Regions from separate parts of the Homo sapiens genome. Here all the other regions are linked to region 3. The links come from fine-mapping of genetic effects on gene expression. Tissue or cell type: whole blood. Region 3 holds a variant in brackets; each other region holds the start of a gene. All regions are shown on one strand. Distances are between the middles of the regions.

Region 1 (4,585 bases), 150 kb before region 3:
TCATTTGAATTCCTAGCACTTACCCATTCAACAAATATTAACTGAATGACTTGTTGAAATGTTTGATGAATGATTCTTTATGAGATTCTAAACACATGCTATGGTATTAAAGGTTTAAGTTGCACAGGGAATTAGTTTTCCTATTGAGAAGAATCAATGATTTTTCTCCTCTCTTCCCCTCTTCCCAGGGAGTGGGAAGGAATCCACAAAACTAAATAGTAGAACATACGAAATTATGGAGAAGCAAAATGACAATAAACTTACCCAATTACTCATAATCCGACTACTTAGAGACCCACTACTGACATTTTTCTCTTTTTAGTACTTTTTTTCCTGTTTCTGTTTTGCTGTGTGTCTACAGTTTGTAAAACTTTTTTTCCCTCAAGTTAAAAAAAATTCTTTTTTTTGAGACAGGGTCTTGCTTTGTCACCAGATTGGAATGTGGTATAGCAAACACTGTTCACTACAGCCTTGACCTCCTAGGTTCAAGCAATCTTCCTGCCTCAGCCTCTCAAACAGCTGGGACTACAGGCTTGCACCACCATGCCTGGCAAATTTTAACATTTTTTGTAGAGATAGGGGTCTCGCCATGTTGCTCAGGCTGGTCTCCTTCCTGGGCTCAAGTGATCCTCCTGCCTCAGCCTCCCAAACTGCTGAGATTTCAGGCACGAGCCACCATACCCAGTCCTAAGTTAAAATTTTATCAAGACAATTATTTTCTTATGGCCTTTAAAAAAACACAATATACCTCCATCCCCACTCCCTTGCTCTCTGCTGCTTGACAGTGGAATGGTTTTGTCTAAAACAAAACCTAGATAATTTACTCAGACTCATCCATATCTTTTCCAGTTCATGGATCCTATGTATAATAGGAATCTGAGCATTGTTTTAGGTCTTTACTTAAACAGAAATCCTTTTTCAAGACCTACTCTGGATGCTTTTTAGAACAAGCCTCATCTCTCTTCTTCAAGACCTCAAATGTGTGCTATGACTATACAGTGTAGTCATATTGATGAGCGAACCACAGAATGTTCAAACTATGAGGACACAGGATATCTTCCAGTTCACTCCCCTCACTTTAAGAGTACAGTGTTAGGACACCTGCCTGAAGTCATGCAGCTGCCTAGTTATCTTTCCAAATTGCCCCGCTGTCTTTAGTTTGTGTAATAATAAACCCCAAACTAAAATTCAACAAAAGCACTCACCCTTGCTAAATAAATCATGTCTATTCCTACCACTGAAGGGGAAAAGGTAACAAAGTTTGGTAGAAGTTGGGCTAGATCCTTCAGCACTGGCTTATTTAGAAATTTCAGAGGACTAGGTGAGGTGGCTAAGGCCTGTAATCCTAGCACTTTGGGAGGCCGAGGCAGGTGGATGACTTCAGCCCAGAGTTCAAGACGAGCCTGTACTTCCAGCTACTCGGGAGGGTGAGGTGGGAGGATGGCTTGAGCCTAGGATGTTGAGGCTGCAGTGAGCCGAGATTGCGCCACTGCACTCTGGCCTGGACAACAAACTGAGACCCTGGAAGAAAAGAAAAGAAAAGAAAGGAAAAGAAAAGAAAAGAAAAGAAAAGAGAAAAAAAGATCAGAGAACCTTTCTTACTGGAAGTCAACGTTGCCACGACAGGATTAAAGCAAGAAGAAACATTATGGGCCTCCTATCTCGTCCTTAATGTTCAAAACGCAGGGTATAGCAAAGCATATAGGAAGAGGTCGTCCTCACTCGTGAACTCAGCATCGGGTTCTACGTTTATTCTGCTTTGGTTCTTCTTAATCTGACCTCTATAGACTTCGCCACGATCCAAGGTGTAATTCCAACAGGCAAAAGAAGTCTAAGGATTGTCGAAAAGGTGGCTCCCTTCAGACAGACCAAGCCCAATTCATGGCAGCGTTCCCAGCCCCAGTTTGAAGCTCAGTAAGGTGGTCTCTTGCCTTTCTGAATTCTGAAAAAAGAGTGGTATTGGAATCTCTTCTTACCGGAACCCAGGAGAGGGCGAGCTGTGGTGCAGTCCTCATAAAGGGGAGAACTGTAGTTTTCAGAGTTCTAATGAACATCCCAATGGGCCTAAAAGGCTTCAATAAGAGATGAAAGGTTCCGGGTGAGAGTGGGCGTGGGCGAAGCTGATCCCTCTAGGTCGGACTAAGGCAGAGCCAGATCCAAGAGGGAGAATCCAACTGTAAAAGGGATCTGGGGAAGAAAGAGCTCTGTTGGGGGTGCAGCCGGATGAAGAACACCGGTGCTGCTCAGTGCAGCCCCTACCCATCCATGGCAAACAAAGGCAGCTGCCTCCCTTCCAGCCTTTTAGTTTGAATGAAGGCTCAGTATTACCTTTTAGGATCCACCCTTCCCTTCTCACGCACCCAATGAGGCCGGAGCCTCTTCCTGCCGGGAGGTGCTGAACTCTCCCAGGAAACGGACAGGTGCCGCGAGCCAATGGAGGGAGCTGCGGCGGGCCAGTGGGCGGGAAGAGTGGGTCGACCTGGGTTTGAGAATGACAGAGCCCGCAATGGGGGAGGGCACGGTGCGACGGCGGCGCAGGGGGTGAGAGGGACCTGCGAGACGGCCAGCTAGGCTGCCCCAACCACGGCGGAGGAACCGGGGACTGGGCGGCCGCAGCCAATGGGAAGGCAGCGGGCGCGGGGCGGGGCGGGCGTGGGGCGGAGCCCCCTGGGGTCCGCAGGGCTGGGGCGGAGCCAGGCCCGCGTCAGGTGGTCCCGGCGAGCTGGCGGTGCGGGGGGCGGGGCACGGCACGGCGCGGAGAGGAGAGCGGCGGCCGGCTGGCAGCGGCGGGCACCGGCTGCGCGAGCAGGTACCGGCGGCAGAGGTGACGAGGCCGCCCCCGGGGGGGCGAGCGGGCAGGCGGGGACTCGGCCCGCTGCGCCCCTAGGCTGCGCGAAGAGCTCGCGCTCGGCGCTCTTCTCGTACCGCGGTAACAGCGCCGGCGAGCCGGCTCTCCCAGCCCTGCCAGCCCGGGCCCTACCTGCGGCCGCCGTCGTTGGGGGGGGGTCCTCCCAGCTCTGCGGAGGCGCATGAACAATAGGCGGCGGCGGCTCCTGCGGGCGGCGGCGGCCCCGCACCCTATGGATCGGCCGCTCCATGGAGCCCTCCAGAGCGCTTCTCGGCTGCCTAGCGAGCGCCGCCGCTGCCGCCCCGCCGGGGGAGGATGGAGCAGGGGCCGGGGCCGAGGAGGAGGAGGAGGAGGAGGAGGAGGCGGCGGCGGCGGTGGGCCCCGGGGAGCTGGGCTGCGACGCGCCGCTGCCCTACTGGACGGCCGTGTTCGAGTACGAGGCGGCGGGCGAGGACGAGCTGACCCTGCGGCTGGGCGACGTGGTGGAGGTGCTGTCCAAGGACTCGCAGGTGTCCGGCGACGAGGGCTGGTGGACCGGGCAGCTGAACCAGCGGGTGGGCATCTTCCCCAGCAACTACGTGACCCCGCGCAGCGCCTTCTCCAGCCGCTGCCAGCCCGGCGGCGAGGACCCCAGTTGCTACCCGCCCATTCAGTGTAAGGCGAAGGCGGGGCCGGGCGGGGAGGGGGAATGACGGAGGCCTGGGGGGCGGTCGGGGAAGGGGGGAGCACTGCGCGAGGGCTGGGATGAGGGCGGGGGGTGGGGAGGACGATTGACCTGGGTGTGGGTGGCGCGCGCTTAGGCTGCCCGGGCTTTGCTTGCTGGATAAGCTCGAGACGCCTCAGGCCCTGCCCGCACTTCAGACGCTTGGGCTTCTTCACCTTCAGTTGGCCACCTCAGCAGTGGCTCCCGATTTCCACATCCTGAAGTCCCAGTCTGAGAATTTGCCAGTTTCCCAGTCCCTTCTCTTACCCACCCCCCCGCCGCCCCCCATTCCCAATCTGGAAGTGTTTATGGCAAGATGGTGGTTAGTGTCCTAGCCTTAGTCCCCAAATCAGGGACCTTGCCACCACCTCTTCTAACGCCTGTCCCCGCCTCCTAAAGGCATTTGCTTTCAAAGAGATGGGGGTGTCTCCGCAGGGCTGAGCTGGCTCACAAGTCCCGGAAGCATGTGTGAACTCAAGGCTCAGTTGCCTGTAAAATGTCGGGTTGATTTCTTGGATCCTATTTCTTATATCTCAGAAGTTGTACCTTTAGGAGTCTCACTGATTAATGTGCTAAGAGGGATGTGTGTGTTGAGAGTGGGGGTGAGACAAGTGATGATTAGAGAGGAAAAAGTATGTCGTTCCCCCATGGGAGATCAGGATTGCAAGGTACAGTGGCTGAATCCCAGTCCTTTGACAGTGAGGCTGTTTGGGAAATACATTTTCTTCTTTCTTCTCATTCTAGATCCTTGCCTATCTTTGGAACTGGTCAAATCTCAGGGGGACCATGCTCAGGGGTCCCTCCCAGGGCCTTTCTCCCAGTGTCCTGGTTTCCGTCAATTTTCCAGGAGCCCCATATTTCATACCCTATAATGAAATCTTCTTTTTTTTTCAAGGGAGTTAAATTGCCATCACAATCCCTTAATCATACTAGTTTATTTCAGAAAAAAACATGTAAATATCTCTTTAGTGCAGTTTACACTATTTTGTATTTGAGAGTTTCCATAATCTCTTATCTGTTAAAAAGGTATTGTT
Region 2 (4,585 bases), 55 kb after region 3:
GGTTTCTCTGGCATCTAGCTGGTGAATACAGAGAGAGAAAGTGAAGATGGAACCAGTGTTTTTCACTGTCTTGGCCTGGAGGTAACACTTATCACTTCCATTCACAGTCCCTTGATGAGAACTGGCTATGTAGCTCCATCCAGGTGCAAGGGTGGTGGAAAATATAGCTTAGCTGTATACCCAAGTAGATAATAAGTTTGGTGAAAAGCTAGCTCATCTGCCTCAGTCCGTCTCCTCATTTAAAAATGGGAGTAATAGCTTCTGCCTCATAAAATTGTTTTGAGGGAACAACTAGATAGTTCGTCAAAGTGCTTAGCACAGTGCCTCGTCCATAGTAAGTGGCTCAATAAGCACAACAAATACTTTTGACATCCATAAACAAATTTCCAGTCAGAACCTTTGTGGCATTCTACTCATTCAAATCTTTTAATAGCTTCCTATGTTCTTTGAATAAAAAATAAATTATTGACCAGGCTCTCTATCATCTGGCCCCTGCCTTCATTCCCAGTCTCTTTTCCCATCATTCATCCTTCACTCATACAACCCGGCTTACACTGGCCTTTCTGTGGTTCTCAGACCAACCCCTTTCCCACTGTAGGGTCCATGGTCCCCTCTGTCTGATATGCTTGTGCCCCAGCTCTTCACATGAGTGATTTGCTTTCATCTTCCAGGTCTCATCTCAGGTATCACTTCCTCAGAGAGGCCTGTCCTGACTGTCCTACCCAAAGTGGCTTCCTCCCTATCTTGTCTTCTCTTGTTTTTGTTACCACACTTTTTAATTTATATTTCTTTATTAACTGAAACAATTAATATAAAAGAAATAGAGATGGGATCTCGCTATCTTGACCAGGCTGGTCTCCAGCTCCTGGGCTCAAGCAATCCTCCCATCTTGGCCTCCCAAAGTGCTGGGATTACAGGCGTGAGCCACCTTGCCCTGTCTTCCTCAAGTTATCTTTCTAAAATGGAAGCTTGATCACATTTCTCCCATTGCCTACAAAATAAAGGTTGAGCTTCCAGGTCTTATTTACCATGCATACCATATGTTTTATTATCTACAGATCTGCATTCTGTCACTATTCTTCCTAATCTCCTTCTAGCCTAATCAAAACACAAGGAAACAAAAAACTAGAAAAACAAAACAAAAAGCTTTATGGATCACACTTTTTATTGGACACGATACTCTTCCTTTTTGCAATGTCCTCCCACTAGGCTCCCAACCAGGCCCTCCTGAAAAATTCTCTCTCAAAACTTTACTCTGTGCATGCACATACTTCTGTTGGGACACCTATTTTATACATACCATCTCAGGCAGAAAATTCCCAAACTGAAATGTACAGGCAACGTACTTTTATTCTACGGAGTTAACAAATTTTTAATTCCTTGTCTATGAGGTTGAAAATCCCAATTAAATTTCTGGTCTTCCCCTCTTGCTCCTGGGTTGTGGTTAAATTCTTGGGGAGTCTTCACAGTACCTAAGTTTTGGAGAAGATGTAGGCACCCGCCCTCATCCCTCCTTCAGATTTTGGCATCCTCTTCCTAGTATCTGTGTGTTGTTTGCATATTTCTGTATCGTTTTGCTTTTACAGAGCCACACTGAAGCTTGAGAATCTGAGGCTTTCTGTAGCTTCCCCGTACACAGAATCATTCCCTCTTTGGAGCCTTGCTACCTACTCCAGACTACTTGGAATGCAGACATTTGCTCATTACTCTGGGACCCAGGGGTATTCCCTTTCTCTTAATCTTATTAATATTTCACTTCAGAAGCATTTCCTGTGTTGTGAAATTTTTCTCAGAGGCTTCTTTAATTGGTTTAGATTTTTAATGGATTTAGTCACATAAAAGCCAATGACTCCCAAATTCTTAAGTCCTGTCCCATCCCAATACCTGAGGCAGGGAGAAAAATATAAATGACCATCGTTCCTAAATCTGATAGCTCAGTGGATACACCCGGGGAGCTTTTAAAATTAAGAGACACTCCCAAGCACAACTCTACAGCATCAGAATTTGTTTTCTTGACGATCACAGACGATCAAGGCAGAATTCTTCCATCAGTGGTGGGCGTGGGGCGGGACTCCACTCGGTCTTTCTGTCCTCTAAGTCTTCTAATTTTTTTCCCAGTAATCCGCCCTCCCGTTCTCCTTCTTTGGCCCATCCCTCTTCTAGTCTTTCCCTGCTCCCCTGCACCAATCTTTCTGCGTCCCGTCCCCTCCCATTCCCCTACCCCACCCCACCCCACCCCACCCCACGTTTCCCGCCTCCCGCGCCTCTCCCGCTTTCCGCCCCCTCGCGTCTCCTCCCCTCCCACCCGCACCTCCACCCCCTGCCTCTCTCCTGCCCGCCCCGCCCCCTCTTCCGCTCTACGTCCCTCCTCACCCATGCGCACTCTCTTCAACCCGCTGCTTCCGGCGGCCTAGGCTTACGTTTACTTTGCGCCGGAAAGAGAACCTGTAAACGCTCTCGGAATTATGGCGGCGGTGGATATCCGAGGTATACTGTATTGCTATATTTTGTCTCTTGATTGTCTGTGGACCAGTTTGGGATGTTATAGCTCGCGGTTTCAAGGTTTAGGTTCCTTTGTGTGAAGTCTCAAGCTTTTTTGAGTGGTTTTTGTGGACAACCCAAGGCTGTGATCTAGCGAAACGTTGACGAGTTTTTTTTTTTTTCTGAGTTCTTGGAGCGTCTCTTGGAAGCGTCGGAGAGAAGGGGTTGGAAGAAGCTCTGGGTTTTGAGCTTTCAGAGCTGGAGTTTTGTTCTACACACGTATCTCTGCAACAACATTAGGGCTATTCTATTGGAGTGAAGGAATGGCGTTTAGGCAGAGAAGGGAATGGGGTAATAAGCCAACTTGATTTGATTCATCTCTTGGGACTTGGCATGGTGGCTGCCTAATTCTTTAGACCGCGCCACACGGGTCCCTGAGCATGAATCCCAGATATTTTCTTTTTTTTTGAGTCGATAATACTTTACATCGAACGTCCAGCAATTATTATGGGCAGGGGTCGTATTTTTTTCACAGCTGAACTGCAGAAGTACTCAAATATTGAATCAGTCAGTGAATAAATGTATGGAGATGTCACCCCTTAACTGCTGCTTGATCTTGGGGAGCATGTAGAGTTGTTTTTGTGTATATAGTACTTGATTTTTAAAGGGAGATGTTTGAGATGCCTTTTTTTAATATTAACTGGATTGGGGTCTAACACATTTATTACAAATATTCTCATTTATACTTATCTGGCGATCTGCAGCACTTCTGGATCATGATTTTACATACGTGTCTTTCATTATTTATTTCATCACTTGCTGATGGTTAGAATGCTGTTAGAATGCTTGGGCTATGTCAACATGTTGCCTTGCTACAGAATAAAAAAGAGAAATATTTAGTTTATAAAATGTTTTACTTATAATTCAGATTGTTAGGATCATGGCAAAGACTCTAAAATAAGAGTGTGTTTGGTGTGTTAAAGGAACAGCAAGGAGGTCAGTGTGGCTGGAGGGTAGTGAGAGAGGATGTGGGAAGGAGATGAAGTCAGAAAGGTGTTGAAAGCTATGATAAGGTCTTTGGCTTTTCCTCTGAGTAAAACGCAGAGCCATTGGAGGGGTTTCCATCAGAGGAATGATGTGATCTGACTTTTTTTTAGGACTACATTGGCTGCTGGGAACAGTGTAGGAGGGCAAGGGTAGAATTAGGAAAACCAGTTAGGAGGCCATTTCTGAAAATGTTATTTCCTGGCCTGTTGTGTATTTGGTTATTGCATGATCCAGTTATGATGAACTATCTAAATGGTCTATACTAATTATTTGGTTATTAACGCACTTCATCTGTCTCCTCCTTTATTTTATAGCACACAAAGTACATTTTACCTTTATATAATTTTTCTCGGTTGAGTCACTTGGCTCAAAACTGCCTGTCACCTTGAATTAGGTCTGACTTCTTTGAAGATGCCTGAGGTAATGACAGTATAAGAGAGATTGAAGTTTTTCAACCAGTATTGTATAGGCATTTTGATGTTCATGATTTACACCTAGTGGTGTTCAGTACAGTCAGTGGTATGAAGCATCATGAAAGCCAATAGCCAATACAAGCTCATTTATTAAAAGTATCTAGCTCTATCATGTCTTTTTAAAAGCTATGATTTAATTCTACGCTAAATATGAAACCGTGTGGCTGTAGTTAAGGGAACTCTACTTCCTGTTTATCCCTTAGCTTTTACATCATTATCATCTCATCTACAATAATAGCTTCCTAACTTCTCTATCCCTAATTGAGAGATCTCAAACTGGTAGCTATAGATGTGTTCTCTTGGGCATACATGTTATTTGAAAATTTTGAATTCCTTGCCAGCATTAAGGATTTCCAATAAAAAAAAAAGTCCTTTCTAAATTTTAAATCTTATCACTTCTTCACCTAATGAAATTATTCTCTAAAGATATAATATACTTTATATTTTTACACCTCTGTATATACATTCTCTCTGCTTGGAATTACTTTGCCCTTTTCTCTGTGTAAGTTTTTATTTATTCTTTAACATACCGTGCTAAAACCCACCTTCTCTCCACATGAAAAATGATTTTCGTTTCCCCAGGT
Region 3 (5,249 bases):
AGACAAACATCTCTAGAACATCTTTAAATTCTCACACAGCACCTACCACAGTGGTTATGCCCAACTGGCAGCAAGACCTAACATATATACGGTGTTTTACAACTCATTTAACTTTCATGGAGACTCCGGGAAATAGCTATTATTAGCTCTGCTTCCAGGAGCTGAGGCTTGGGGAAGTTAAGTGACCCGCTGAGCCCACTTAGCTCTTATGGGGAAAGAGCTAGTGTTTACTTAACCCCAAATCCCATATTGGTTCCAATCCAACAGAGCTGGTGGTAATGGTGGAAACCCGGACTGGCTGATCTCTGAAGGTCTTTATCAAGTCTGAGGACTGAGAACTCTGGCTCAGAGAGTTAGCACCCTCCAAGTGGCTGTTTCTTTGTTTGTTTGTTTGTTTGTTTGAGATGGAGTCTCGCTCTGTCGCCCAAGCTGGAGTGCAGTGGCACTATCTCAGCTCACTGCAACCTCTGCCTCCTGGGTTCAAGCAATTCTCCTGCCTCAGCCTCCCAAGTAGCTGGGATTACAGGTGCCTGCCACCAGGTCTGGCTAATTTTTGTATTTTTAGTAGAGATGGGGTTTCACCATGTTACCCAGGCTGGTCTTGAACTCCTGACCTCAGGTGATCTGCCCGCCTCGGCCTCCCAAAGCACTGGGATTACAGGTGTGAGCCACCGTGTCTGGCCCACAAGTAGCCGTTTCTTTGTTCACTCCAATACCTATTTCTCCTGCCTGCTGCCCAGAGAGTCTCCCACTACTGCTGCTGCTATTTCTACTGCCAGGAGCTGTTTGGCTTTATCTAGGGGGCTAAATCTCCTTTGATTCCATTCACATTAATTTCTGACCTTCCACTTTTCCATTCTAGTATGTGCTTGCACTAGATTCAAACAAACACTGTCAAGTGTGTCTTTTGTTTTCTTTGTTTTAGCAACACTGTCTTTGGAGATCTCTCCTTTTCATCATAACCAAGCTGCTCCCTTGAATCCCTCTGATTCTTCACATGGATGCCCCACCTTTGGGATCACTACCAGAGCTGCTGCTTCCCACGCATCATCACTACACAATTTCGGGTAGGCACTCTTAGTAAACTTAGTCAATAAGGATTCACTCATCGTGGCCTGTGCCCAGGGCTTCATAAGGAATATGGAAAGCATTCAAGAGATATTGATATCTTCAAGGAGTTTATATTCTTTTTAATTACCCTCTGTTGGCAAAAATAGCTGTCAAAGTGGCAGGTAAAAGAACTGCATGGAAAGTCAGTATAAAATCCTGTAAGCTGAAAGCTTACATTGACAGTCCTTTAAAGCATATAGGAATCTGCCCAAGGGAGTTGTAATGCCAAAGCTTAAGGTCAGCTCAGCCCTTTGGCACCAATCTGGGTGCTATGGCAGAACACTTAGAAGTTATCCCACCTATGGCCCCTTACTCTCACCCTTGACTTTGGTGTAGTAGACAGAGAGGGAGAAGGCAGTAGTGAAAAGTTGGTAGGACAGAGCTGTTGTTTGCTGGAATCTTCATTAACACCCCTTCCTCAGTCTGGAAGCGGGACTTTGGAGTGGCCAGATTGGCCATTTGGAATGTGAAGATGAGTGTATTCCCAGAAATATTCAGAAGAAACCCATCGCCCCATATTATCTTTTCCTTCTCAGCTCTGGCCAAGTACACACGTCACGTTCATTGGCAGAAACTCTAAGCCAGAATGGGAAGACCTTAGAAGCCAGAGTTCTATCCTGTTCTCTTTTTGGACATTAAAGAACGTCTCCCATTTCAATCCCCTCTCCTGCCCCAGAGACATGTTCCCTGTTCCTATTGCCTCTCCCACCATCTTTCCCTCATGTCCTCAGATGTGTTTGGGGATAGGATAATTAACAGGCACATGTATAGCGGAAAGAGCACGTCTTTGGCAGCATTGTGCTGTAATCACAGAATGCTGGAAATAACCTAAGTATCCATCAGTAGATTAGTTAAATAAATAATGGGACATTGGTGCAATGGAACATTACACAGCCATTACAATCATGCTGTGGAACGGTGAAAAATATTTTCAATGAAAACACTGGTGGAAAAACATGAAGGTTGCTAAAGTTTGTACAGTATAAACCTGAATGTTGTGAAAAATAAATGTGTGTGTGTGTGTGTGTGTGTGTGTGTGTGTGTGTATCAGGGTGAAGAATTATTTTTTCTTTTAAAAGTTCTGCTCCTTCTGTATGGGTGAAGAATTTGTAATATCTATAGCAGAGTTTAAAGGAATAAATTATCTTTTTGGAGGAGACTGGCTTCATCAACTGCTTCAGGTGGGGAAGGTGAAGCTTAGAGGTCAGTAGCAGGCACACACGTAGATGAAAAGATGCCCAGACTGCTTTGTATATGAAATGAAGGGAATCTGAGAGTGGGGAAACCTAAGAAGCTGAGAGGAGCTGGCGGGGAGAAAGAGTCCAAGCAGCATGGCGGGGAGCTGGAACCTGCCAAAAAATGTGAGTGGTCCATTTGAAATTCCTGGTGGTCTGATGGCCAAATGAGTTTTAGGAGGAAGAATTTCTACTATTCAATTTTTGAGATGTAAACTCCTTCTGCATCTCATAACCTTCAGTAAAGTCTAGTGAAATTATACATCTGGGTGTAGTGGTGCTGTGGAATGTGAAAAGGAAGTAGCAGCAA[C/T]AGGAAGTCGAGTGGCCCCTTGGTTGTCATGCAAACAGAGTGAGCAGCATCCTGTGGGAGGGGAGGGGAGAAAAGACAGGAGGTCCCTGCAGTGGCCCCAGCCCACGTGAGAACAACCCCTTGTTTCCTAAATACACTGGGAAAGGTAGACCTGAAGGGGGTTGGCTGATGTTTGTTTTACATATAAATGATCATACACCCACACGGAAGAAAAACGGCAAGGAAATAAACCAAAACGGTTAACTGTTGTCATCTTGGGGTGGTAAATGACAGAGTTTTACCTTCTTCTTTGTTTTTTTTTTTTTGTTTCTTGAGATGGAGTCTCGCTCTGTCGCCCAAGCGACGCTTGGAGAGCAGTGGCGCGATCTCGGCTCACTGCAACCTCCGCCTCCCAGGTTCAGGCGAGTCTCCTGCCTCAGCCTCCCGAGTAGCTAGGACTACAGGTGCACGCCACTGCGCCTGGCTAATTTTTGTATTTTTAGTAGAGACAGGGTTTCCCCATGTTGGCCAGGCTGTTCTCAAACACCCAACCTCAGGTGATCCACCCACCTCGGCCTCCCAAAGTGCTGGGATTACAGGCGGGAGCCACTGAGCCTGGGCTGCTTCTTTGTAATTTCTTATATTTTCAATGCTAAATTAAATTTAGCCTAAAGCTGCCTCCTTACATAGTCTAAGTTTGGCCTAAAGGTTTCTTTGTACATAAGGAACCATAGTAAACTGAAAACTAGCTGGATGTGTAAACAGTCTGCAACCTACTCTTATGCCAATCAACTGAGTTTTAGCCAATCAAAGGCAACCAAGTGTTCAAACTGAGTTCAAATAAGGCAAATGCAGAGCTGTTAAGTATCAGCTGTTTCTGTACCTCGCTTCCATTTTTTTGTACGGTGGCTTTCCTTTTTCTGTTTCGTAAATCTTCTTCCACCATGTGGCTGCACTGAAGTCTCTCTGAGCCTATTCGGGCTTGGGAGGCTGCCCGATTCACGAGTCATTCTTTGCTCAATTAAACTCTGCTAAATTTAATTTGTCTGAGGTTTTTCTTTTAGTATCAATAACTTCTGCAACTATGATGCTTTACTTTTGTAATTAGAATTTTTTTTTTTTTTTTTTTTTTTTTTTTTTTTTTTGAGACAGAGCCTTACTGTTGCCCAGGCTGGAGTGCAGTAGTGCAATCTCGGCTCACTGCAACCTCCGCCCCCAGGTTCAAGCAACTCTTCTGCCTCAGCCTCCTGAGTAGCTGGGACTACAAGCATATACCGCCACGCCCGGCTAATTTTTGTATTTTTAGTAGAGACAGGGTTTCACCATGTTGGCCAGGCTGGTCTCAAACTCCTGACCTCAGGTGGTTCACCCACTTTGGCCTCCCAAACTGCTGGGATTACAGGCATAAGCCACCACTCCCGGGCAGAAACTATTTTTAAAAAGTCACCACTAACCATTATCATCCCTTCAGAGAGAGCTGGGGGATGAGGGGAAGAGGAACTTGGGAGGAGAGGTGTGAAAAGGGATTCAGAAGGGTTTCCTAGGCAGAAAGCACTGCCTCTTCATGGGGCACTGTTCTGGGGATGCTTAGGGTCATGAGGGACCCTGGGTGTTTTGGTGGAGGAGCAGCTGTGAGCGGATCCAAGGGACACACCTGCTAGTGCTCTCACTCCCAAGATGCCTGATTAAGCCAAGGACTTTCTTCATCCTACCCCAATAAGGAAGCTCAGTAAGCTGGCATCTGCCTGATGCACAAGAGGGTGGGTGGGGCAGTCCCGAGGCTGCCAGCCCCATGGCTTCTCTGTCGGATGTCTCCTTCTATGAGCCTCTGCCATCCTCTGTTTCTCTTCCCACCAGAAAGCCTTCTTTCTTGTTAAGCTCCCCTGGGGACTCAAATGATCACAGCATGTATCTTCTCTTCCCAGCAGGCAAATCCTTATTTTCCGCTGTCAGATTCTCAACTGGTCTGACTTGTGAGAGTGCCTGAAGTTCTTTCCCTGCTTTTCATTTCAAAGACAGGGTCAGGGGGAATCCTGGGGCAAAGTGTGAAAAGTGGCAGGGAACAGGCACTGTCTAACTGAGCCTTATTCATTTGGAGAATCTCAGGCTGGAGATGATGTGTGCCTAGAACCCACAGTTTCTAAGTGTTTCTTAGACTGACCCAAATCCTGAGAAGCTGGAAGGGGCATAGACCCCTGACCCATGGGCTCTTGGTCATGGTGGAACTCTGTGGTCTTTCAACTAACTGATGAGTTATATGTTCACTCAGCCTCCCTTGACCAGGAATACACCAGGCATGGTGGTAGACAATGTCCACACCAAAGGCTGTTGGCTTATACCTTCTCACCTCTCCTGTCTTGCAGACACTTAGGGAGATGGCACTCTTTCCCCTGGCCCCTGTTTTGTCCTCACCTTTTTGCTCACTTGCTTCCCGTGTTTCCCCATAGCCTTCTTTGCTGCATTCTTTCCCTCTCTCTTTCCCTATATTTTCCTCTGTCTTCATGCATACTGGAGTAGGAGTTAGATTCAAATATTAACTAGCATCTGTTAAGCATCTGTTATGAGCCAGGCACTGTGCTAGGCATGTGTGCATGTATCATTAATTTAATCACCAT

Evidence for each region. PIP is the estimated chance that this variant, and not a neighbour inherited with it, causes the effect.
Region 1: MAP3K9 starts here. The variant in region 3 is fine-mapped to the expression of MAP3K9 in whole blood (TOPMed, PIP above 0.99).
Region 2: MED6 starts here. The variant in region 3 is fine-mapped to the expression of MED6 in whole blood (TOPMed, PIP above 0.99).

The regions. Positions count from the first base shown.
Region 1 is chr14:70,807,683-70,812,267 of GRCh38, reverse strand. MAP3K9 (mitogen-activated protein kinase kinase kinase 9) reads left to right here and starts at 2,755. Exons shown (of 12, transcript NM_001284230.2): 1 at 2,755-3,502. The coding sequence starts at 3,097. It overlaps MAP3K9-DT (MAP3K9 divergent transcript), which reads right to left and starts at 3,484. Exons shown (of 2, transcript NR_184164.1): 1 at 2,981-3,484. RefSeq lists a silencer at 2,554-3,193 and an enhancer at 4,134-4,193.
Region 2 is chr14:70,598,518-70,603,102 of GRCh38, reverse strand. It overlaps MED6 (mediator complex subunit 6), which reads left to right and starts at 2,448. Exons shown (of 8, transcript NM_005466.4): 1 at 2,448-2,487. The coding sequence starts at 2,466. RefSeq lists an enhancer at 1,747-2,946.
Region 3 is chr14:70,653,118-70,658,366 of GRCh38, reverse strand. The region is part of intron 1 of TTC9 (tetratricopeptide repeat domain 9); the gene reads right to left. Among named protein-coding and RNA genes, the nearest start is that of TTC9, 14 kb to the right of the region's middle. RefSeq lists enhancers at 3,627-3,686, 4,260-4,846 and a silencer at 3,747-3,886. The variant C/T (reference allele first, on the strand shown) is at 2,656.